Linked DNA regions of Homo sapiens. The protein of the gene in region 1 interacts with the protein of each later gene in a pairwise test. Each region holds a gene or a part of one and is shown on either strand. Other genes may lie near its edges.

Region 1 (4,798 bases):
TGTAAGTTTCCTGAGGCCTCCCTGGCCATGCCTCCTGTACAGCCTATGGAACTGTGAGTCAATTAAACATTTTCTCTTTATAAACTACCCAGTCTCAGATAGTTCTTTATAGCAATGTGAGAACCAACCAATACATGAAATGTATATTTAAGAATGGTTAGGATGGTAAGTTTAAGTCATGTATATAATACTGCAATTAAAAACAACAGCGTAATGACAACAACAACAAAAAGGCACTGTGGCTGTACTATAGCATTGTACAGAGATTAGACTGGAGAGGATAAGACTAGAGGCCAGAGGCCAATTAAAAGCTGCTGAAGTAATGGAAGCAAGAGAGGATAATTGTCTGACCTGGGCAGGTGGCAGTTGATTGATCCTGCCATTTGCAAGTTAAGATAGACAGAAGGAGCAGGGGATGGGGACGATGGTAGATTCTGTGTGTGTGTGTGTGTGTGTGTGTGTGTGTGTGTGTATACTCTGTTATTTTTACCCTCTATCAAACATTATGGGATGCTGAGATACAGAAGAGTGGATATGTCTAAAGAGTTGGCTATAGGACCATGAAAATATAGAAATATAGACTAAGAAAAATAGAAGAGGTCCAAGAAGTGTCTATAGATGCTTCAAATAGAATATAAAATGTAACTTAAAAAGAAACATCAGGAATTAAAAAATATAGTGTTGGGGACTTGTCTCTCAATCCTCATTTTGCAGGGCATCACTGGTTTTATTGTTGTTGTTTGCTTGTTTTTTGAGACAGGGTCTCACTCTGTTGCCAAGGCTAGAGTGCAGTGGTGCGATCTCAGTTCACTGCAACCTCTGCCTCCTTGGTTCAAGTGATCCTCGTGCTTCAGCCTCCAGGGTAGCTGGGATTACAGGCATGCACTGCCATGCCCAGCTAATTTTTGTATTTTCAGTAGAGAAGGGGTTTCACCATGTTGGCCAGGCTGGTCTCGAACTCTTGGCCTCAAGTGATCTGCCTGCCTTGGCCTCCGAAAGTGCTGGGAGTATAGGTGGGAACCACCATGCCCGGCCAGATATCACTCGTTTTAAAGCATCCTTTGTAGTCTCACTCAGAACATCAGTTCCGAAAATCTTTATTATCAATAGACACATGACTTTACAAAAGCTTCTAGTATATAAGGACATCTTGCCCATTCTTAATAACGTGTTGATAACAAAGACACTCATCATTTATATGATGAAGTTACATTCTAGATCCTATTCGTTTTCCATTTCTAATAGCCCCATTTTATTAATTGCAATGATTTTCAACTCCGCTATCAAAAGGAAGTCAACTGTTGCTCTGATTACAATTGGGTGTTTCAAACTATCGTCTTGATTACAAATGAATGAGTTGCATGCTGCAGTTGGAGATACTTCGCATACTTCAAAGAAAGGAGTAGAAATATGTCTGATGGTAAAATATAGAATGATAGAATTTATACATAAAAATCAAGACTATAGTTACCCTATTTTTTTTTTTAAGCTGTACACAATCTTCAGTAGTTTCCTGTCAAGTTAGGAACTTTATATGTTAGAGCCTGAACATATCTGCATATGACATTTAACTATAAAGCATTAGGACTGTTTTTAAATAAATGTAAAGGCATTGATATAAAAAGAGTACTGTTCTCTTTTTAAGTTGTTACCTTAAAAGGCCATAAAATTACTTCTGTGATGTCACAGTTCAAATATTTTTGAATGACTGACATTTTTAAAATTCTAACTCATATTATCCTGGATACCGATGCATACTAGATGAGCACCTTTCCTAGTTAGGACATTTCTGGAGTTGTTACCACCTATAATCTGTGGCTTGGTGGTAGTTGTAAAATTTGATATTTGGCTAGTAGAAAGTAGTCACTGTATATGTTAAAATAGCTATAAAAGATTCTTACCTTCAGCTCCTGAAGGATCTATTGTTCTTTGTGATTTGTTCTTTCATTTTGTACCCTAAAAGATATGAGTGTATAAAATTTGCAGAATTGCCACAAGGTCTTCTTGGCCAAAGTCACCTTTCAGAGTTGCCAAGCAAGCATCATGAGATTGGTAAAGCCAGCTCTACAGCATCTCTTGGTGGCACTAGAACACAATTTCTTAAGGAAAAAGCCAGCATTTCACCCACTGCCTGGTGTGGCAGTCAGAGCCAGGAAGGGCTTTGGTGAATAGGCCAGGACGTGCAGTGGGCCAAATGATGCCTTCTCTTAGGTCAGTGACCCAGCCTCTACAACTTCCTACAACTCCTTCCAGGACTTTCTGACTCACAGCTTGGGAAGAATTAGGAAAGAACACCTGCCAAGCTGAGCAGAACAGCTGCTTCCTGCTTACGTGTTTTTGGTGGAACATCTCATTTCTTCTTCAGGACATGTTTGGATATACACAGGGATAGAAATGCCATAGTGAAAACATCTTTATGACTGTCAAAAAAAAAAAAGCCCTAATATTCACAGAAGATGGGGTCTTGGTTTCTTTATTCCATTTTATTATTTATTAAGACTGTTAACAAAAAATAGGCTTTATTTTTCCTCTGTACTTAAAAACTATAAATTTACTTGGGTCACTAACAGTGCTCTCAGTCTGAGAGAAAATTACATAATAACAACAATAATGAACAAAGCACTTAGCATGTGCCAGGCACTGTTCTAGGTGCTTTTACATATTCAGTCATCACTTTTCACAACAGCTCTATGAGGTAAGTACTGTTATCTCCGTTTTACAGATGAGGAAACTGAAGCACAGAAAAACCAAGGTTCAGTCAGACAGCTAGTATGTGGCAGAGTCAAGATTTAAATCTAAGAAACAGGATCTGGAATCTGTACTCCTAACCATTACGCCACACTGAGATGGTTCCCAAACAGCAGGAAGAAGAAGTGTTCTTTCCCTATAGGTAACAGTTCACTCATTCTTTTGGTGCAGTAATGGACAGTCTGTACCGAACTCTCCAATATAAAACGTGAGGAATTAAAATGTATATAGAGCCTGAAAACTCACTTACTTTTATAATGGTTCCAAGCAAAGAAAATGCTTTATGGGTTCAAACATGTCAAATTTATGAACTCTTCGTTTTTTTGTGGAAACTGGCTGGCAGTCTCTATTTACAATATCTCTCCTCTATTATAAAAAACATTGCAGTGGAGCTATGTGAACATTTTTTCCCCTTTCCCTTAGAGAAAGCAAATTAAGTCAAAGGTGATACATATCCTTGGAGTTGGCTGAAAAAGAAATTGGGAGAAATATGAGAATAGCCTTGTGGAACTTGGTTTCCACAATTCTCAAATTTAACCATGAAATTAAAATTAGATACAGGGGATAGATTTTCCTGGTCATAAGCAAGTCAGGCAGTGAGCTCCAAAGAATTCACATACTCCTCCTTCTAATTCTTTTAAAATTCCAGCTTCTAAAGGACCTGAGAAATATGATCACTACTAAACTCACTCATGTATTAAATAATGATTAGGAAGAGCTAAGAGTTGACACAGAGGAAGGCCAGGAAACATGGTAAATGTGGGTAAGGGCATTAAGAAGTTTGCAGACTACACCATATCTCTAAAGCCTCATGATTTTGCTAAAGTATTGTAACTCAGGAGAGAAAGCAAGACACCCTCATGGGAATTCTTTTGAGTTTTTCATTCTTTTCCCCCTCCACTCAGTTCCATCCAGATGTGGCAGCCTCAGTAGCTAGTAGAAAAAAAATTTGGCCAGGGTCAGTGGCTCAGGCCTGTAATCTCAGCACTTTGGGAGGCCAAGGTGGGCGGATTGCTCAAGCTCACAAGTTTGAGACCAGCCTGGGCCACATGGCAAACCCTGTCTCTACAGAAAATACAAAAATTAGCCGGGCATGGTGGCACATATCTGTAGTCTCAGCTATTTGTAGGCTGAGGTGGGAGGATCACTTGAGCCTGGGAGTTTAAGGCTGCAGTAAGCCATGATTATGCCACTGCACTTCAGCCTGGGTGACAAAGGGAGACCCTGTCTCAAAAGGGGGGAAAAAAGGCCAGGCATGGTGGCTCACACCTGTAATCCCAGCACTATGGGAGGCTGAGGCGGGCGGATCACGAGGTCAGGAGATCAAGACCATCCTGGCTAACACGGTGAAACACCGTCTTTACTAAAAACATAAAAAATTAGCCAGACATTGTGGCACGCGCCCAGAGTCCCAACTTCTCAGGAGGCTGAGTCAGGAGAATCGCTCGAACCTGGGAGACAGAGGTTGCAATGAGCCAAGATCCTGCCACTGCACTCCAGCCTGGGCAACACAGTGAGACTCCATCTCAAAAAAAAAAAAAAAAAAAGGAAAAAGAAAAATTTTAACAATAATTGAGAAAGTAAACTAAATGGTCAAGCCAGAAATGTATAAAAATATGTGTATAATGTAATGTTTATTAAGCTTGCTTGAAAAACAGAATTCTTTTACTTTGAATTTCTCCATTTCAATGCATGGAAGGAATGGTCCACAGTAAAACAAAAGCAGTATTTCCAAGAATGTTAGTTGTCTCTAGCTCCGTATACATTTTCTACCGCCATATGTCTACCGCCATAACCAATGCAGAGTTGTTTAACATGAAGTTTGACCCAAACTGGACTAGGAAGGGGCAAACTGGAGTGAAACAAACTCAAAACAAGCAAACCAATACCAAGAGCCAGAAAAGTGTTCGTCTTGAAATTTATATACCATACTTACATAAAAGAAGTTAAACCAATTGATCATTATGTACATATATTAGTGAATATTAGTATTTTACATTTACATACATGTGCATATGTAATCAAGTAAAAATATAAATGTTAAATAATT
Region 2 (6,546 bases), on another chromosome or scaffold:
CTTTCATTCTGCTGAAAACTACAACCAAACTGAAGAACCGGGCCCCTTTTCGTTTTTTCCTAGAAGGCCTTTATCACATTCTGGTTTCTCCAGGCCATTTCCATGCCTGGTCCTTGACGGCCGGCATCTCCAACAGCAGCAACTCTCTTTGGTTTCTGTCTGGTTTGGGATTCCTGGCCCTGGAAGCTGTCACTACCCGCTTCATGTCTGCTGCCGTTTTCTCCTTCAGAGTGGAAATCACGCAGCCATCGTGCCTGGCTTAGCTCTCAGGGAGGCAAACTCCACACCTGAGCTTACCTGGCTGCCCCATCGTCCCATTCCACAGCAGACAACAATTTGCAAATACTTTCTGCTATGACTGAAAAGCAGCTCGTGTTGCTTTGACTAGAACCCACGTGAAAAGAGCCTCCCTGAGGTCCCCGCTAGAGAGGGTCTCCTCCCTTTTTTTCCCCAAAATTAGAAAGTCAAACTCCTACTTGTCCAAACTCACCACAATTCATTGAATTTTTCTGAGTAGTGGCAGCCCTGGCTAAGAGTCTGAGGAGCCCTGCGTCCCTTGGGAAAGTGGGGGAAGCCTAAAGCAGGGGCCTCTGTACAGAGGTTCAGGACCCCTCCCCACCCTGCTGGAGGAGCACATCTAGAGATGGTGGCGTGAGCCTAGGGGTTCCGCTGAAAAGACAAGCGGCGTGCAAGGGATGCCACAGAAACGCAGGATGCCCGGGAAGGAGCCTCCACAGCTACGCAGGCACTCCCGTGACACTGCTCACCTGGTACGGTTCTGTGGTTGGAAAAGCAATTTCTATTTTAAAATACTTTTTATAAGAAGATGACTTTCCTTTCAGACAAAGCCAAACGTTTAATCACAACATACTGCCTACACATTTTAAAATCTTTTCCCTCTTCCTTCTCACCAAAAAAACAAAACCAAAGCAGGAGACTTGGTGCAGCGTGGCATGCTCCTCTGTGACCCAGAGCCGGGGAGCCCGTCCCTCCCATTTTGCTGAGAGGCTGAGCGCTCAGCTCTGCCCGGGGGCAGCTCTGGGTCCTCCCTGTCCCCAGCACACATGGGGAAGTTGAACAAGATGGTTTGGAAGAGTCGAGCTTCGGTTTCACCATCCCTTCTCTGGAGTCCTAGGCCAGGGCTATGTTCTGCCTCTCCCCTCTGTCCCCAAGTGCCTCTGCTGGCCCTGTGAGTCGGGCCTACAGCTCCCTGCCATCCTCCTCCTCACCGTCCTGGCGCTGGGACCGTCGCCTCTGCTGCACCAGCTGCTTGTCCAGCTCCCGGAGCTGCTTCAAAAAGCCCCGGTTCGGGAGGACGCAGCGGTTCTTGGCCACTTGCTGGATGGCGTCCACCAGGGTCATGTCCTTGTGGATCATCAGGTAGGCCAGGACCAGGGTGGCTGACCGGCTGCGGCCCATGACGCAGTGAACCAGGATCTTACCTGCAGATGGAGCAGGGAGGAGAAAACCCACACTGAGGGGCAGGTGTTGGGGGCACAGGTAGGGCCCACTCCCATCCTGACTGTCACCCTCTCGCCCACAGAAAGTGACTCAGCACTGTGCCCCACAGCTGCCTCTGTAGAACGGGGACACTCTCGGTGTCTTCTTCATAGGGTTGTTGAGAAGGCAAATAACCCTGTAAATAACTCGATTTTAGCACAATTTGTTTGTGCTAATGAATGGCTGCTGAGCTCCTACAGTGTGGCTGGGCTGCCTTTCCCCTGAGCACCATGGCCAGAAAGCAAGCACCCACTTCTTGATTGCTGTTTCGGATCTGGGGGAGGCTGGTCCCAGGTTCTCCCTGGCATGACCGCGCTCCTGGGGTGTGAACGTGTCCAGCTGGATGAATGTCCACCCCTGGCATTCAAATCCCACGGACCTTTCTGGAGGCTGCCGGGCCTCTGGCCAGCCCTGCTGATAACCAAAGCGTTTCTTCCTCTCCCAGAAAACAGGGTAATTCTTTCTGTCATGACTCAGTACTTGAAACAGATGAAAGCTGTAGTTCATTAAGCCTTTTGGGGGCCTGAATTCTGTTAAGTGGCAGAGGGGAGGGGAGAAAGAGTTGGAAGGGAGATGGAGGGGGTGGGAGGAGAGGGGGAGGTGGAGGGAGCAGGAGAGAAAGGGGAAAAGGAGGGACAGAGGACACTAAGCTCTGGTAGGAGTTCCAAGAGCTGAATTTTGTTTCCAAGACTAGGGCATGAGGCCGGGCGCGGTGGCTCACACCTGTAATCCCAGCACTTTGGGAGGCTGAGGTGGGCGGATCACTTGAGGTTGGGAGTTCAAGCTGGGTGAATGCACATGTGTTACTATTGGAGGAGTCAGGCCTATTGAGAAGAATCAAGGTCCAGGCAACACTTTTGTTCCTTCTTGTGGTCAGATTAGCTGAGACCCATCATGCCAGAGCACATCTCTTACCATCACAGGGGCCAGCACTATACCTGTGTTGGGCTTTTATTTCCCAACTTCTGTCAGAGCTCCTAGGGTCCCCCTGGCCAGAGCACACTTGTTGCAGTGGGAGAGATCAGCGCCCCTCTCATGCTTGGAGATACTTTTCTTCATGACTACAGTCAGAGCCCTTGAGGCATGCCTGACCACAGTTCATCTTTAGGAACAGCAGCAGCTAGTGCATACCTATGCTTGCAGGTCCTTATGTTCTCACATACAGTCAGAGCACCTGGAGCCCATGTGGTTAAAGCCTGGCCAACATGGCAAAACTCCATCTCTACACAAAAATTAGCCAGTCGTGGTGGTGCACCTGTAGTCCCGGCTACTCAGGAGGCGGAGGCAGGAGAATTGCTTGAACCCAGGAGTTAGAGGTTGCAGTGAGCTGAGATCGCGCCACTACACTCCAGCCGGGGCGACAGAGCAAGACTGCATCTCAAGAAAAGGAAACCCAAATCCAGAATCTCTACTGCTCCTCAATTGCATGCTTTTAGGAGTGACTGGAAGGTAGGCCTCTGTCACGAAAATCAGACGTAGGCTAAGACTGTTACCCTGCACCACGCTCCGCCCCGCAGCCAGGTGTGCTCCTTGCTAAGCAGACTCCTTCCTTGCTTTCAGGAGATGCTTTCTGCCCATCTCCCATGCACTATCTGGGAACCTGCCTTTCTTAGTAACTTGCAAAGAAATTCTGGTAGAGCCCTTACTTCTTCCCAAGAGGTTCTAGGTGTGTGGAAGTTCTGAGAAACAAGGTGCAAGGTGTATTATGAACTGCCGGGGCTGGAGGGAGATAGGGCAAGAGACCCTTCCAACAGTGAAAATCGGCTGGGCGTGGTGGCTCATGCCTCTAATCCCAGCACTTTGGGAAGCCGAGGTGGGTGGATCACTTGAGGCCAGGAATTGGAGACCAGACTGGCCAACATGGTGAAACCCTGTCTCTACTAAAAAATACAAAAATTCACCAGGTGTGGTGGTGGGCACCTCCCAGCTACCTGGGAGGCTGAAAGAGGAGAATCGCTTGAATCCGGGAGGTGGAGGTTGCAGTGAGTGGAGATCACGCCACTGCACTCCAGCCTGGGTGACAGAGCGAGATTCCGTCTCAAAAAAACAAAAACAAAAACCAAACAGTGAAAATCTGGTCGGTTAAAGCTTATTAGAAGCACCAGAGAATCAACCTCCTGCTTGAAAGCAGGCTTCATTTATTTATTCATACTTCCCTTATCCATAATATATTTTAAGATGCCTTCAGAAGCAGGCCATGGACTGCCAAAAGGAGAGCGTGATACTAAAGTCTGATCTTTAGCGCCTCGTGGCATTTGCCCTGGAGTTTCTTAGAAGACTTCATTAAATTAAAACCACACTAATTCACCTCGGAGGATGCCGAATCGGGGGCAGTTAAAGCAACCCAAGTGGGGTTCCTGTGACAGTATTTTGTGAGTACTTCTTTTTCTGATGAAGAGTGACAAATTCAGTTTTTTCAGATCCTATAACCAGCTGGCATGACTCGCCCTCCATGATATTCGGTGACCTCTTATACAGCAAAGTCACCAGGTGCTCAAAATAAGGGCAGAGGACTCTTCTGTGAGGCCTCGGTGACAGAAGGAATCCCCGCTGGTAGGCAGGTGTCCTGATGGCGCTGCCTCTGATTAGCTCTGTGACCCTGGGCACCTCACTTGTCTTCTCTGGGCCTCTGTTTGCCCAGCTGTCAGGGCAGGACCAGGGACTGGATTATCTCCGAGATATTTTAAGAGTGACTGAGGTTGCCTGGGGAGTTCTTTATAAAGGGTCAAGTCAGGGTAGTGATGGGATGGGAGAGGGCCCCAGGGGCTGATTACAGCCCACGAGTACAGCTCCACAAGGAACGCTTTTCAAAAAGAGTGAAAATGACCGGCTGTGAGAAGCCAGGTAGGGGGAATGGTGTACACTTGGCTGAAACCAGTCAATGAGAACAAAGAACATAGACAAGAGGAAGCAAGGAGTGATGCCTTGCTTTTTGGCCAGACTGTCTATCCACACCACTTACATAGAGAGTGTAAGAAACATACAAGTAGGTCCAGCACTAAAATGCCAAGCAGTGTCCCTTGCCTAGACACAACTGCATGTGGCAGGTGGGCTGAGCACCTGCCGTCCACTGGGTATGAAGTCTGTGGCATTGCTGCTGCTGAGCTAGCGGGCATTTTGTTTGGTTGCTCTGGCCACTCAGGGCACAGGTTACAACCTGATGGCCATTGGGTTGCTTTAGTCTGTCCTTTGCAGCATTTTAAGAAATTTCAATCTGTTGCCAAGACCTAAAAATCGAGTGATTTTATAATCCAGATTGGAGACTTCTGAAAAGTCAGATCTCCCACATTTGCACTGACTCTCACAAGACAAGCATTAGCTGAGGCTGGGTGGCAGGTGCCCCTCTGAAGGGGTACAGGGCTCTCTGCTTAGCCACAAGTGCCCCCTACCCACACCCCTCCGCTGTACATGCAGCCATCTTCATTTGTTTACACTCTGCATGGTTCTGCAGGGTAGGCGTTTGAGCCCTGACTTGAATTATTTAGATATGCCAGTGCAAAGGTGCTGAGAGCAGAGCCTACCCTGCCATCTCCAGTGGGGTCATGTCCTGCTCCCCATCCCTAGCCATCTGGTCGAGTCCCGGCACCCCCATCCATTCATTCTATCCCACTCATAGTCTCTGATCCAAGTATCTACTCTCCTCCGTTGGCCCTTTGTTTGCTAGGTGCCACCTGGTCTAACAGTCATGATCCACAGCAGCCTGACACCTCCTCATAATGTTCTGTCATCTGCCTAGGCCTAAGCTTCAACTTGAGAGCCTGATTCTTTCTGGATTTGGCAGTGGGGGCAGACCCTAAAATTGAGTGCCAGGAACCTACAACAAGCTTTCATGTGAGTATATCTTACAGTTCAAAGTTGGAATGTCTTTTTTTTTTCTTTGAGGATTGGAAACTTTACGATGATGATGTGCACATGCTGGCGTGGTTATATGCTTCACAGTGTATGACCACGCTTTATCAAATACATCCGAGAGCCTGCTGTCCACCAGGTTCTATGCTAAGCGCTTTACGCGCGTTACTGCTGATCCTCATTATAACCTCTGAAGGTAAATATTTTTATCACCGGATGGAGAAACCAAGGCTCAGAGAAATCACATCGTTAGTAAATTGTGTGACAGAAATGTAAACCCAGCCCTGTCTTCTCCGAAGCCTGCCAGGCCCCTTCCATGAAGGGTAAGGTCTAAAATATAGTAATGGCAAGTGAGTGCATTAAACAGAAACTGAAGGATTAGGTTGTTGCAGTCTTTGTTTTTTTCATGTCAAATGTGTTTTCAGTTAACTTCAAATACTATGAGGCAAATTTTACCTTGTGGTGATGACTCAGTTCAGTTGTGTTTTTGATCCTGCTTGGAAACCCAGAATGTACACAGCACAAAAGATGGTTCATAAATAGACTCATAAAAGGAAGGCCTGGAAATGAGGCATCTTCTAATACAGGCATGTTAGCTCTAAGGGTTTTTTTTCATTGTGACATTGCTTTCTGAGCCAAAATAATGACAAATTGTTGGTGGCTATGGTTGGCTGTGGGGCCAGGGCCACCTTGGGATGTCCATTAAGGTCTGATATTGTCCAGCAGACCTGGCCTAGGCCCAGCCCCAGGTTGCAAGTTCCTGCAGCAGACTATTTGGTCAGTCACTGAGCCTTGTAATCACAACCTCTTGTGGCAAGAAAGGCTTTCAGTAACCAGATACCCTGAATTATGTGATGGCTCCACAAAGGGGTGTGTGACACATTGGGCTGAAGTCAGAGCACAGATTAGGGAGCTGAAGTCCCTCTGGCCTCTGTGGAATTCCACTGAAGTACACCCTGCAGCAATAACTGTATATTGTCTTACCCCCGATGCGTCCCTAAGCTGTGCCCTTCTCTCCAAAATAGCCTTGTAGCCTTTGCTGGATTAGGGTAGCCAACAGTGCATTCTGAGCACAAAGACTAGCACTGTGATTTAAAAGCTGGATAATTAACACTGGGAAAACTTGGACGCTGGGGGTGCAAAACCCAAATTATACCTCAAATACAGCGTGCCAGTAAAGCCCAGCTTGTCAGCTTT
Region 3 (8,500 bases), on another chromosome or scaffold:
TCCCATCACATGAGAGTCCTATGATGCTTCTTCCCTGTGCTGCGAGGGCTTCATCTCCTAAGCACTAAATGCTAAATTCCCCCTCCCACGCCCATCGCCACTGTCCTCACGGATCCTCGCAGCAGCTTCCCAATCGGTCTCCCTGTCTCCAGCCTCACCACCCCCAACTCTCCTCCACCTAGAAGCTAGAGTGGTGTTCCCAAAAAGGAAACATATTTACAGTCAGTCTGTCTCCTGCCAAATTGTAATTTCTGATGGAAGGGGCTTTCTGGGTGTTATTCGCCCATGTGAGCCCGCCTCTAGCGTGGAGCTTGGCACAGGGAGGGTTCAGCATATGTCTGTTAAGTGCCCGGTTATGGATGCAGCCTGTAGGGTTCCACTGGCCTATTGCACTTTCTGTGTCCTGCCAGGATGCGGGTGGCATTCTGGAGGCCTCTCCAGCTGGGGCAGTCCATGAGCTCCAGAAAGTTCACATCAAAGGGGTGGCCCTGGCTCCATGAGGAAGAGTACAGGCTCTGAAATCAGACCCAGGGTTCTGAATACCATTCCCACCTCTCACCAATCAACTATCAATTCTGTGCCTCAGTTTCTCGTCTGTAAAATGAGAATGATAATAATGCCTGCTAATAGGGTCATTTTTGTATTAAATAACTGAGAATATTGCCTGAAATCCTTGCCAACCCACATTATTTTGAAACAAGTCTCATTTCATCCATAAATATGGCAGCATGTGTCTCCACTAGATAAGAGCTCTCACACACACAATACCACTATCACACCTAAAGTATTAACAATAATTCCATAATATCATCCAACCAGTGTTCAAATTTCTCTAATTGTCTCATAAACAATTTTGTCATTTTGTTCAAATCAGGACTGAATAAGGTCCATCTATTGCAAGAGACTGATAGGGGTACTGGGATTCTTTTGATCTATAGCAGGGGTTGGCAGACTTTCACTGAAAAGGGTTAGACAGCAAGTATTTTGGTCTTTGTGGGCCCTTCTGTCTTTGTTGCTATGACTTAAACGAATGGCTATGGCTGTGTTTCAATAAAACTTTATTTATAAAAACAGGCAGTTGGCCAGATTTGGTCCCAAGAAGGCAGATTGCTAACCTGTGATGTACAGGCTTGTTCAGATTCAGGGTTTTTTTGTTTTGTTTTGTTTGGCGATAACATGTCATAGATGGGTAGCATTGCGGATTTCCATCCGAAGGCTTAGAATGTCAGGGTGTTTCTCTTTCCCTCTCCCTCTAATATTATCAGCCATGTACATTCGGTGTCCAGATTCATTAACTCATTAAGGGAAGTAAAATGGCAACATTCTAATTCTATCGTCCCTTCATTTATTAGCTGCAATACTTTTACAAAGAGAAACTCGCCTTTATCTACTATTTGCTTATACTGACGTATAGTTTGTACAGGAAAGTTAAGATAATACATGCTTGATCCCTTTCCTTTCTTTACCAGCTTTTAAAAATAATGAGTTGGGCTTCTTAGCATTCTTCAAAGATAATCAATGTACTTTTAAAAAGAACATTATGAGCAAATAGATTTCAACATAATTGAAGTGTTTTGAGGCATTGCAGTTACTGCCTTTAATGATGTTTAAATTGTCTCCGTTTTGCCCCAGCTTATGACAAGACCTCAGAAGTCTTTGATAACATCCTTGCTTTCTGGTGTGATGAGATATTCTAGGGTTATCTTATTCAGTTTATAAAATCAGCCTTCTCCAAAAAGCCCTGGTTCTCTCTGGAGGGAAGTGATATTTAGTAACCCTAATATGATACTAAGGATACTTATTGTTTCCAGAACTTTTCAGTAGATATATCAAAGGATCATTTTTTTAAAGGCCTCAGAAATACAGAATTCAGAATACTGAAATTTCTGAATCAGTTCAGGACCACAGCTGGCGCCTCTATGGGTAAGGTAAGTATGTGGGAGGTAAGATCCCCCATGATCAAAGCTGTTTGCGTCCCTCGGCCCAGCCCGATCAAACTTCTGGATGCCATCAAAGAGATCTGCCTAACCTAAAGATCATTGTTCTTTAAAAGAAAAACAAGTTCATTAATCATGTGAGGAGGCTTGGGGCCAGGATATAAAGTTAATGACAAGGGACTCCCTTCTATTAAAAGGACTATGTGCAAACAGGCATGCCTGGAGGAAGCCAAGGACCACGATAAAGGAAAACAAACACCTTATGATTCATCTAACATAGGCCCGGTTACAATCGCAGGTGTAAAAGGAACTGGGAGCTGGCAGTGAGAGACAACAAACATCAGTGGAACATGGGATGGTGACTCTTTCTGGCTGAGCGCCACACGTTCCTACCAGGAATCTTCTATTAGTCATTTGGGCTGGAGAGTGAGATCCTTCCTCGCTCTCCACCGTCCAGGGTCATGTTTAATGGTGATGTTTGTTCTTTCCAAGGAGAGAAGGCCCATCTAATTGCAGGGCTTTTGTTTTCCTGAATGGACTCAGGAAGGCCATGGCTGAAAACGAGGGTGCTGAGAGGCTGTAAGGAGAAGGGAAGGAGTTGGAGGCTCTGGTGGAGTGAGGAAGAGCAGGGCAGTATCCCATGTCCTCTGATGTTAGGGGTGAGGTCAGGAGGGTGGGTCTCACCTTCTCCTTTCTCTGCCCTGCATCGGTCACCATGGTTTAAAAATCAATGCTATTCCATGAGAGGGCTGCCACTTATCATTTCAGTTCCAACACCTGGAAAGTAAAATTATTGTCTCCCAAATCCACCCAGCACCATAGGCTTGAATAGGGATCATATGCTCTAAGACCATTCATGAAAACAGAGACAACCAAGGAGACAGTCACCCAATGCTGTCCCTTCAGCTTGCATTATTTTCTGACAAGACAGCTCTGCCATCCATGGAAGCCTGTGTGCTCCTCCATCCCTGGATCTTTATGCATCCTTTTCCCCACAAACCCAAACCATCCCTCTTAAAATGAAAAGCTTAGGAATACTCACCCTAGACTGAGTCACGCGTTTCTTGTACAAACTTTAATTAGACTTGATTTTTTAAAAATTTCCCTTGTGGCTTTTAATTATTAGACAGAGCAAATGTCTCTAGTATTAAACTTATATGTCACATAGCCTCTTTATCAATGGCCCTAATACATTTCATGTGCTTTTCAGAAAGATTATATTCTTCCCAGAGCTGTCTGAATGTCTTTTTGAACCCCTCAAGACTGGACACCAAGGAGTATAAATAATCATTTTAAAAAAAATCACATTCCCTCCACAACCTTGAATCTGAAACGTGAATATATGAATAGAAGGGCTCTGGAATAACTATGCAGATTTATGGAGAATATCAACTTAAGTTATATCACGGGATCCAGCTATGCCTTTCTTCATGGAGTTGGGGATTTGTTAAAGTTGAGATATAGTTTGGGGGAAGTGTGATTTATGGTTAAAGTCATCTGAAAATCAATACATTTGAAGATCTCTGACATAAAGGTCCCTTGCAGAGCTAGACGTGATTCTAAAATTGGGAACACAGGAATAAAAATCAAATCTTGAGTAGAAGTAGCTGAAAATTGCAGTGATTCGGGGAAGCTTGGCTTCTAACTCCCCACTGTTTGAAGATGGGCTTGTTTGTTTTTTAAAACAGCCAACATAATTCAGCTGGAGGAGGTACAAAGAATTTTCTATTCCTTGTTTCTGTAGAAATCGATGGACTTTAGCTTGTCTAATTGTCCCCCCTGCCTTTAGTATCTAAAATAAAATAACCCTCGTTGCTTGCATTACTCAACGCATTTCTGCGTCTTGGCGTCTATGGCTAAACGAGTATTAATTAGACAGTCCGCAGAGAGCTGGCTGGGGATAGAAGGGGAGGTGGGGGAGAAGGGCAGGGATCACAGCAGGGTGGACTCGTGGCCCTGATTTGGGATCCTGACAGCAACTTACTAGGTGGCCTGAGGGCTGGGTGCCAGGGGAGGCAGCGGGTTCCAGTAGCATCTGACCTGCATTAGGGACAGGGGCGCGGCGGAGGGGGCGAAGGGGGCGGGGGTGGGGGGAAGGTGGCTGGGGTGAAGCCCAGCTTCGCAGCTAGCTGTGGGCAACAGAGGGAGTAAGGGGGGGCAATGAGGCTGGGGCCAGGCGCCAGCAGCAGCCACGCCCCCCACCTCCCCCGATTTTTAGGGAAAATTCTCCAAAGCTCTCGCATCCTCCTCTGCCTCCTTCCACCCTCCACCCTCCCAGCCTCCACTGAGACCTCTTTAAAACCACCCAGGGGCCGCCGGGGGATGAGGCCGGGGAACGGGCTGGACTGAGGGCGGGGGCTCGGGGGCAGCGGACGGGAAACGCCTCGAAAGCAGCCAGACCCGGCGACTGAAATGAGGCGGAGGAGCTTGGCGAGGGGAGGCGCAGGCTCGGAAAGGCGCGCGAGGCTCCAGGCTCCTTCCCGATCCACCGCTCTCCTCGCTGACCTCCGAGTCACCCCCGGAAGCTCCCGCCACTGCCGGGCGAATAGACCCCCGCGGACCCCCAAGCGCGCGGGGCCGGGGCCCTAGTTCAGGCCCTCGCTGCCCCTTTAAGGGTTCTCGAAACTTTCCCCCCGGTATCAGATGAGCCTCGTCACATCCGTTGGCCGTGGCCGCTGGGGCGCTTTCCGAGGAAATTCGGGACTCGAGTTTCCCGGGGAAGAGGCGCGGCCTGAGCCCGGCGAGGGTGGGGAGGGCAGGCGCAGGTGGACCCCGGCGCCCCCCGAGCCCCGCTGTGACCTTGGCCGCGGGGGAGGGGCTGGGCCGCTGCGGGGCAGTCGCGGCCGCCAGAGGGGGCAGCGGAGAAGAACTTGCCCAACTTGGCGGCGCGGGCTGGGGCGGCTCTGCGCCTCCGCGCCCGCCTCCCCGGCCTCCGCCTTCTCCCCTCCCGCGAGCCTCCTCCCCTCCCGCGAGCCTCCTCCCCTGGGCCCTCCTCCCGTCCTCCCCGCCGCCGCCGGTCCCGGTGCGCGCCCATCCCTGCCCGCAGCCCCGCGCGCCGGCCGAGTCGCTGAGCCGCGGCTGCCGGACGGGACGGGACCGGCTAGGCTGGGCGCGCCCCCCGGGCCCCGCCGTGGGCATGGGCGCACTGGCCCGGGCGCTGCTGCTGCCTCTGCTGGCCCAGTGGCTCCTGCGCGCCGCCCCGGAGCTGGCCCCCGCGCCCTTCACGCTGCCCCTCCGGGTGGCCGCGGCCACGAACCGCGTAGTTGCGCCCACCCCGGGACCCGGGACCCCTGCCGAGCGCCACGCCGACGGCTTGGCGCTCGCCCTGGAGCCTGCCCTGGCGTCCCCCGCGGGCGCCGCCAACTTCTTGGCCATGGTAGACAACCTGCAGGGGGACTCTGGCCGCGGCTACTACCTGGAGATGCTGATCGGGACCCCCCCGCAGAAGGTAGGGACCCCCGGCTGCTGCCGCGGGCTTTTCGGGCTCGTTGGAGGGAGGGGGCTGTCCAGAGACGCCTCCACGCGGCTTAGCGTCGCCCCCAAAGCAGCAGCTGTCCCCGCACAGAAGAGCGGGGAACGCAGAGGGGCTCGGGTGGGCCGGGGAGCGGGGGCGCTCGCTCTTGAGTCGCGGAGGACGGCAGCCCCCGCCCGGGGCGCACTGAGGGGTGTGCGCGAGTGTTTCAGAACTTGTGAGCTCCCCCTCCGCGGGGCTGGGCGGGAGAGGAGACCTGGAACTTGCCGCCTCCAATAACGTGATTTCCTTCTTGCGGGCGACACCTACTTCCAGCGGGAGACGGAGCGGTGGGCCTTGGGCGACGGGCTATTATGGGGAAAATCACCTCGTGTTCATACCCTCCCTCCCCCCCGCCCCCCCCCCACCCCACCACCATGCTGTCTCATTGCTAAAGAGGCTCGTGGCCGGCTTCCAAAGGCGCAGTACCCTTTAAAAAGGATTTATGCATGAGCTCAGCTAAAAGCAACCCGGTTAAGAAGTGGCTCGCTTGCTGCTCTGAGGAAGGAGCAGCGTCTCCCCTGCGCCCGCTTTCCTTTCTCGGAGTTGGTTTGTCAGCTGTGTCCTCGCTCATCCGGCGGCCCTGCCCCTCTGCACGGAGCGATGCATCTACACGCGGGTGTGCAGAGTGTGAAAAGCATTCCAGCTACCGGGAAAAAAACAGGGGCTGAGTGAGGTGTCCGGGGACCAAGTGGTATCCCGATTACAACACAAAAATAAAATCAAACAGCTTTCCTTTTCTCTTACTCTGATGTTCATTTACTAACACTTTTTGTAGCAAGAAACAAATGTTCCCAAGCACAGTGATCTGAAAAAAAAAAAAAAAAAATCCCAATTGATCTGCCCCCTCCTACTTTCAAACTGTCTAATCCAAGTGGGATTTGAAGTCCTTTGCTCAATTGAATGCACTATTTGAAGATAGTTTATTTTTATTTTTAACATTGTCATTTGGGTTTTGATTCAGCTATGATTCCCCCATAAATAGAACATACTCATGACTTTTGTATAATTCTCATTAAATTATTCAAGACTTTAAGAGGAAAGACATGCCATGCTAATTCTTTTAAAAAAGGAAACTGCCGAATAACTTCTGTAGTTGTTTAATTAGTTTAGGGGGAAAAAAAAACCTTCAAAAGCGTATATTCAAACTTTGATTCTAGTTGCCTTTCGTCTAAGTCATGGGAAGCCACGTGAGTGATCTTTGCCATCTCCAGGAGTGGATGGTTAGAGGGAGGGAATAGGAATCCCCATCAGCTGAGGGAGCTTAACTTGGCTGTAAGATGTGGTCTTGGTGCAGCCAACACGTGGGAACATGTGCCTGGTGCTGAGAACCTTGGAAATATGACAAGATATTGAGGAAGAACCTCTTCTGTGACCTGCAGAGAATCTTTTGGAACAGGCCTTGAATGAATCCCCATTGGACATGTGTGCTTTGATGCGAGGGAATTCTCTCTACTAAAAGTAAATGTGGGTGGTCTGAGGGCTATGATAAAAGAAGCCCTGAAACCCTCCCTCCAGAGCAAAGGGGAAAGGGAGAAGCCTGAAGAAGGACTAAAAAATACTTAACTTTGGCAATCAAAAAAAAAAAGCTTTTATAAATAATAACTTGCCTGTTAATTAATTCAATGACCTTTATTTTAAAATGATGAGGTTTAATTAATTTAATTAACAGAAATGTATTGAGTACCTAGGCTCCTGTCTTTACCGTAGCCAAGGCAGTAGTTGGTTCAAGATTACTTCTCAACCATTAGCATGTTTCCAGGGAGCGCTGCTTCTACAGAGACAGATTTAATTTTTACATGTGATGGGGAATGAAATATCCTGTACCTCCCTCCTGGCTTGATTTAGCGATAAGCTGCTTTATAACCAAATCTTTCCAAATGCCTACTGTAAAGTCAGGCTTTCCTGACTACTGCATTAGGATTCACTACCTGCCTGTGTTGCCCTGAAATGTCTCTGACCACCAGCAGGGTGTCAGCAGCCGGCTAGAGGGGGCAGCAGTGAGGTGACTTCTGAACCTGGAGTGAGCTTTCCTGCTCTATTAATGGCCAGGAGTCATGCATTTATTCTCTGCTGATTCTCTGAAGCCTAAAATAAAAATTGCTTAGGTGGAGAGAAAAATGGAATTGTAAATTCAAGCAATAAATAACCAAGAATTTTTCAAGAATTAAGTAATAGTCATAGACAATGTCTGAAAGCTCAGTACGTGACAAGCACTGCGCTCTGTGCTTTAGGTGTGCTTTCCCAGGAATCCCCACCCACCACCCACCACCCCTCGGGGGTCTTATACGCATTTGGGGGTGGGAAAACTGAAGCTCGGAGAGACTGAATGACTTTCCAGGGCAACAGGGCAAGAAAGAGGGAGGGCCAAAAATGGAAGCCAGGGAGCTGAACTTCAGAAGCCAAGTTCTGAACCACCAGACAGATAACGACTTCCTTCCCTTCATGCCTCCTGATCTCTTTGGTTTTGGCCTCAAACTACCCTTTCTAGCCAGAGAACCCTGAACGTACACCCCAAGGTGTTAGGGACTTATTGTATGACTGCAACTGGACCCTCCGGAACTCCGTGCTGTTCCCCCATCTCCTCTTTCCTTCAGCACTGCTGAATGAGCAACAGAATGAAGGGCTGGATCCAGGTGTGCACGGGAGAGGCCTTGAGAGGAGAGGTTCAACAGGAACCAGAGCCCTCCAGCTCCCCTTCTTTTATGGGAAAGTCAACTGTTGGAAGTGTGCTTGTTCCCCGAAGGCTTTAATCAGGAACTAGAGGTCCATTGTTTAAAGCCCAGTGACTCTGTGAGGAGTCACAGGCATGTGCCCGGAAGCCCGCCTGAGAGCTGCAAGGCGTGTGTGCTGGCAGGCAGGGCCACGTTGGCATGGAGATGACTGCCAGGTTTGCGGCTGATCCCATTATGTGGGTTCTTTCGAACTGTAGAACTTTTGAACAGTTCTTTCAACCAGCACCTGCTTGAACCGTGCAATTTGGTCTTATTAATAATAACACTCTTCTAAAGTAATTATAATTACAGCAATTTCTATTATGAAAAAAGAGACT
Region 4 (4,127 bases), about 110 Mb from region 1:
CATGGTGTGAATACTACCACCATGGCTGATTTCAAACTACCAACATGACCTCACTGAATGTAGAGTTGGGAAGAGACGCACACCATCAGCTGCAGAGCCAGGGCGGCACTGGGAGAGGCCCAGGGAAGACGGGCAGGAATTGAGATCAGGAGAGCACCCTCATAGCCAGGCTGAAACTCACAAAGGCTCATGGTCCTGAAAACTTGTCCAGCCCCATCCACCACTAGGTTAAGTTTGGTGCCAATATTTGCATCAGAAACATTCATCTGTGCTTACCTTGGCTGAAGTACCTGAGGCTTCCACAGAGGTCTCCTGGGTGCCTGCCTACACAGGACAGTGGTATGTGGTGCTTCAGGGCCTATTCTCCATGCTAAAAGGCCAAACTTGCCCTGAAACCTGCCACAGAGATGCCCTTGAAGGCCCCTGGGTAGAGCTGGGTAGAGGCCCAGGACAGCTTGATCTCTAAGGAACTGGTCCCTACATCCTGAGGGCCGGTGGGTGGTGGTAAAAGCAGCAGGCTGCAAAGGCTTGGGCTACCCAGGTCCTAGAGATGTGAAACGCCAGTTCTGGATCTTGGGATGGGCCAGCGTAGCCTGCTGGATCTCCTGCGTGGAGGTTGAGGAATGTGAGGAAACACCCAACATTGCTACCTCAGTAGGTAGCAGTGCGTAACCCCCTCCCACAGCATCTCATAAAACCTTTGAAACGCTTTTGACACCTTTCTAGAACATCAGCTCACAATGGTTGTGTTTTGCTCATTGCCATACCAAACACCTAGAGCAGTGCCTAGTAAGAAAATGGGCATTTGATAACTATTGCTGAATTGAATTTATTGAATACATGCAGAGTACAAACGGCCCCAAATCACAGCAGGTTGAAGTATTCACAGAGCCTGAAGGAAAGTGGACAGCAGAGATAGTGGCTCTGGAAATTGGATGAGGTGGGCATCTGGAATGTAGTAAAGCAGCAGCAAGCAGGAGATACTGCTTGGCGACTAGATGAGCTCAGGTAGCCCATCACTGGTACATTGTTTGGGGATGCTGTAGACAAAGGAATGACAGCATTGGAGTATTTATTGAATGCCTATCACAGGCTGAGCCCTTTCCTAGGATTCATATGCTTTTCTCAATGGAAGAATCAAGAAGATAGTTCATTATTTCTCCTTAATACAAGGCCCCATCGTCTTCCCAAGAACCCCACACTCCTACTGCCTCAACTCCCATTTGTTGGAGAAGCTGAAAAAGCTGACCAGGTAGGAAGTTTCTTTCTCTGAATGAAGCTAACTAGGGTTCAGAACAAGCCCTTGACCTATTGTGACCAATGGCAGATCCTGTTCCAATCAGGCCCCACACCTATGAACAAGTCTGTATCTCAGAGCAAGAGACAGATAACAATTCCAGGATTCTCCTGATCTTAGATTAGGACCACAATACAAAGTAGACATTCCTTCTTACTTTCTATGTCAAATTTAGCTAATCACTGGATTCATCAGAAGCCTAGGGGGTTCAGTGTCGAGATAAACATACCTAGGACACCCCATGTTTCTGGGTTATCCTTAGATACGATGAGGTGGAGAGATTCCAGTCACAGAGAGAGGCTGTAAAGAGCAAGCAGGCAGTTGGAGAGAGCTACCAATCCCAGACACTCCAGCAGTTATGGTGACTGCCTGGATGGTCACTCACAGAGGAGGAAAAAGTAGTGAGAGAACTGGAGACAAGGGGGAAATGCAGGTCTTTCTGTACAACAGCAGCTTCCAATCAGAGAAACAGATGATGGGTATCCAGCTATGCAATCCACAAAGGACAAAGTCCCCTGCTTTGGCACAGTCTGATTGTTGGGATGAAACATGCCTAGAGGTAGAGTGAGCCCTTTCTAGGTTAACATAACCAGATATGGGACACCTGCCATTCACTGCAAAGTGCTTCATATAGCTGGCTGCATTCATCTGCTTAATAAAACCAGATAATGAAACAAACCCCCTTTTCCAGTTCCCCAGAGCCCTGCTGTAAAGAAGGTGCCTTTAATTAGAGTCAGACTGCACAGCACTGGGGCTCAGCTGTACTATAGTTTGATGCTGCAAGGCAGAAAAGTTACCGTGTATTTTCTAGGCAAGTAAAATGCAGATGATGTTTAATATCAGATATCTCTCCAAGGAAAGAACATTCTGTAGCTCAGACAAATAATGCAAGTTTGGGTTAATTTTTGGTTTGTCTTTTAAACATAGTACATTCAGGCTTTTGTTTGTGATCAGGGCAATAATGACAGATATAATTACTTAGAGATGAAGAAACCAAAACCAAGACACAAGGAGGCTGAGTAACTTGCCCAAGGCTCACACAGTTACTAACAGCAGGGCCAAGATTCAAACTCCGCTAGTCTGGCTTTTAATGTTGTTGTATTGATTTATTACTCTTTTTAGTCTGTCTTTAAGAGCTCACTTTCCTAGATGTTGTGGAACACTTGAGAGGGATGTGGTACTCTGAAAGGAGGGGCTGCAAATCACTCTATGTCCAGCAGCTGTGGGATGGAATGGTCAGTCTGTGAGGTCAGTCTCTGTACATAGTCTTCAGGCTCAAGTCAAGATGTCTCTTCTTGGCCAGGTGCAATGGCTCATGCCTGTAATCTCAGCACTTTGGGAGGCCAAGGTGGTAGGATTGCTTTAGCCCAGAATTTCAAGACCAGCCTAGGCAACATAGTCTCTATTAAAAAATAATAAAATAATTTTTAAAAAGGTATTTCTTTTTAAAATATCTTCTCTCTAAAGATATATGTACAAGGGTGTTAACTGCAGCATTGTTTTAAGAGTAAAAAGGTTTGAACCAACCTAGATTTCTATCAAAAGTAAGCCAGAAAAGTAAATGATGGTGCAAATACACAATGAAAAAACAGGCAGCTGTAATAAAGAAAGGAAACTATGTACTGACATGGAACTGTTGCCAACATATATCTGAAAAAAGCAAGGTTCAGAATAGCGTACAGTTTACCATTTGTGCAAAGCAAGGAAAAAGACCACATGTGTTTTTGCTTGTATAGACAGAGATCTCTGGAAGAATATACAAGCAACTGTAATACTTGTTGCCTCTGAGTGGGAAGTAGTCGCTGTGGGGAAAGGGTGAGAGGCATTTCATTCTACGCCATTTTGTACCTTTAATTTCAAACTATGTGAACATATTGCCTACTCAAAAAGTGTATGTCTGTACTCTCTTAAAAATGAATTACAATATGTAAACTAAACACAGAACATATAAAAATTGACATATACCCATGCAATCTATAAACAAAACACATGTATGGGGAAACAAGAAGTTATTAAATCAAGGTGGTAACAATCTTTTCCTTTTGTTCTCTATTTTTCCAGAATTCTTATGATGTGGTTATAGTAAGTACTTTTAAAGCATTTTTTCCACATTTAACTTACTTCCTCCATGACTCTACCAGTATTTTGATCAGTAATCATGGGCAGAAGAATGGAAATGAAGACTAAGGACTCCAGAATCCCAAAATTCACAGTATATTCAACAAAGAAAAAATCCCTACCATCCTTAAAAAGTTGGCAATCAATAGTTTCCAACCCTTTATGAAAATACATGGGGTATAGGCTGGGCGTGGTGGCTCACGCCTGTAATCCCAGCATTTTAGAGGCCTAGGCAGGTGGATCACTTAAGGTCAGGAATTTGAGACCAGCCTGGCCAACATGGTGAAACCCTGTCTCTACAGAAAAACAAAAATTAGCTGGGTGTGATGGCATATGCCTGTAGTCCCAGCTACTTGGGAGGTTGAGGTGGGAGGATGGCTTGAGTCTGGGAGGTGGAGGTTGCAGTGAGCTGAGATTGCACTACTGTACTCCAGCTTGGGCAACAGAGTCAGATCTTGTTTCAAAAATTAAAATTAAAATTAAAAATAAAGGAGAGGTGGAGAAAAGAGAGAAAACTTCTAATGTAAAAGAAAAATAAAGAAAAAAGCACATCAAGTTGTCATAAAATCATTGCCTGTGTGTTCATGACGTCAGATAAAATAGATTTGGAAACATTCAAATGCCAGCTGAAGGAAAGGAGTTTCTCCCACCCCTGAAACAAGGTAAACAGTGACCCACCTCTGTAATAAAAAGGAAACACGACAGTCAGGAG

Evidence for each region.
Region 2: the proteins of STX11 (region 1) and DUSP29 interact in binary tests that used the Homo sapiens proteins (3 or more experiments, as listed by UniProt).
Region 3: the proteins of STX11 (region 1) and BACE2 interact in binary tests that used the Homo sapiens proteins (3 or more experiments, as listed by UniProt).
Region 4: the proteins of STX11 (region 1) and RNF8 interact in binary tests that used the Homo sapiens proteins (3 or more experiments, as listed by UniProt).

Annotation. Positions count from the first base shown.
Region 1 is NC_000006.12:144,188,223-144,193,020, reverse strand, and holds the end of STX11 (syntaxin-11), read right to left. Parts: 3' UTR 1,082-4,798; downstream 1-1,081. UniProt on the Homo sapiens protein: SNARE that acts to regulate protein transport between late endosomes and the trans-Golgi network.
Region 2 is NC_000010.11:75,036,636-75,043,181, forward strand, and holds the end of DUSP29 (dual specificity phosphatase 29), read right to left. Parts: intron 1,443-6,546; coding exon 1,201-1,442; 3' UTR 837-1,200; downstream 1-836. UniProt on the Homo sapiens protein: Dual specificity phosphatase able to dephosphorylate phosphotyrosine, phosphoserine and phosphothreonine residues within the same substrate, with a preference for phosphotyrosine as a substrate. Involved in the modulation of intracellular signaling cascades.
Region 3 is NC_000021.9:41,163,191-41,171,690, forward strand, and holds the start of BACE2 (beta-secretase 2 isoform A preproprotein), read left to right. Parts: upstream 1-4,969; 5' UTR 4,970-5,073; coding exon 5,074-5,385; intron 5,386-8,500. UniProt on the Homo sapiens protein: Responsible for the proteolytic processing of the amyloid precursor protein (APP).
Region 4 is NC_000006.12:37,391,421-37,395,547, reverse strand, and holds the end of RNF8 (E3 ubiquitin-protein ligase RNF8), read right to left. Parts: 3' UTR 814-4,127; downstream 1-813. UniProt on the Homo sapiens protein: E3 ubiquitin-protein ligase that plays a key role in DNA damage signaling via 2 distinct roles: by mediating the 'Lys-63'-linked ubiquitination of histones H2A and H2AX and promoting the recruitment of DNA repair proteins at double-strand breaks (DSBs) sites, and by catalyzing 'Lys-48'-linked ubiquitination to remove target proteins from DNA damage sites.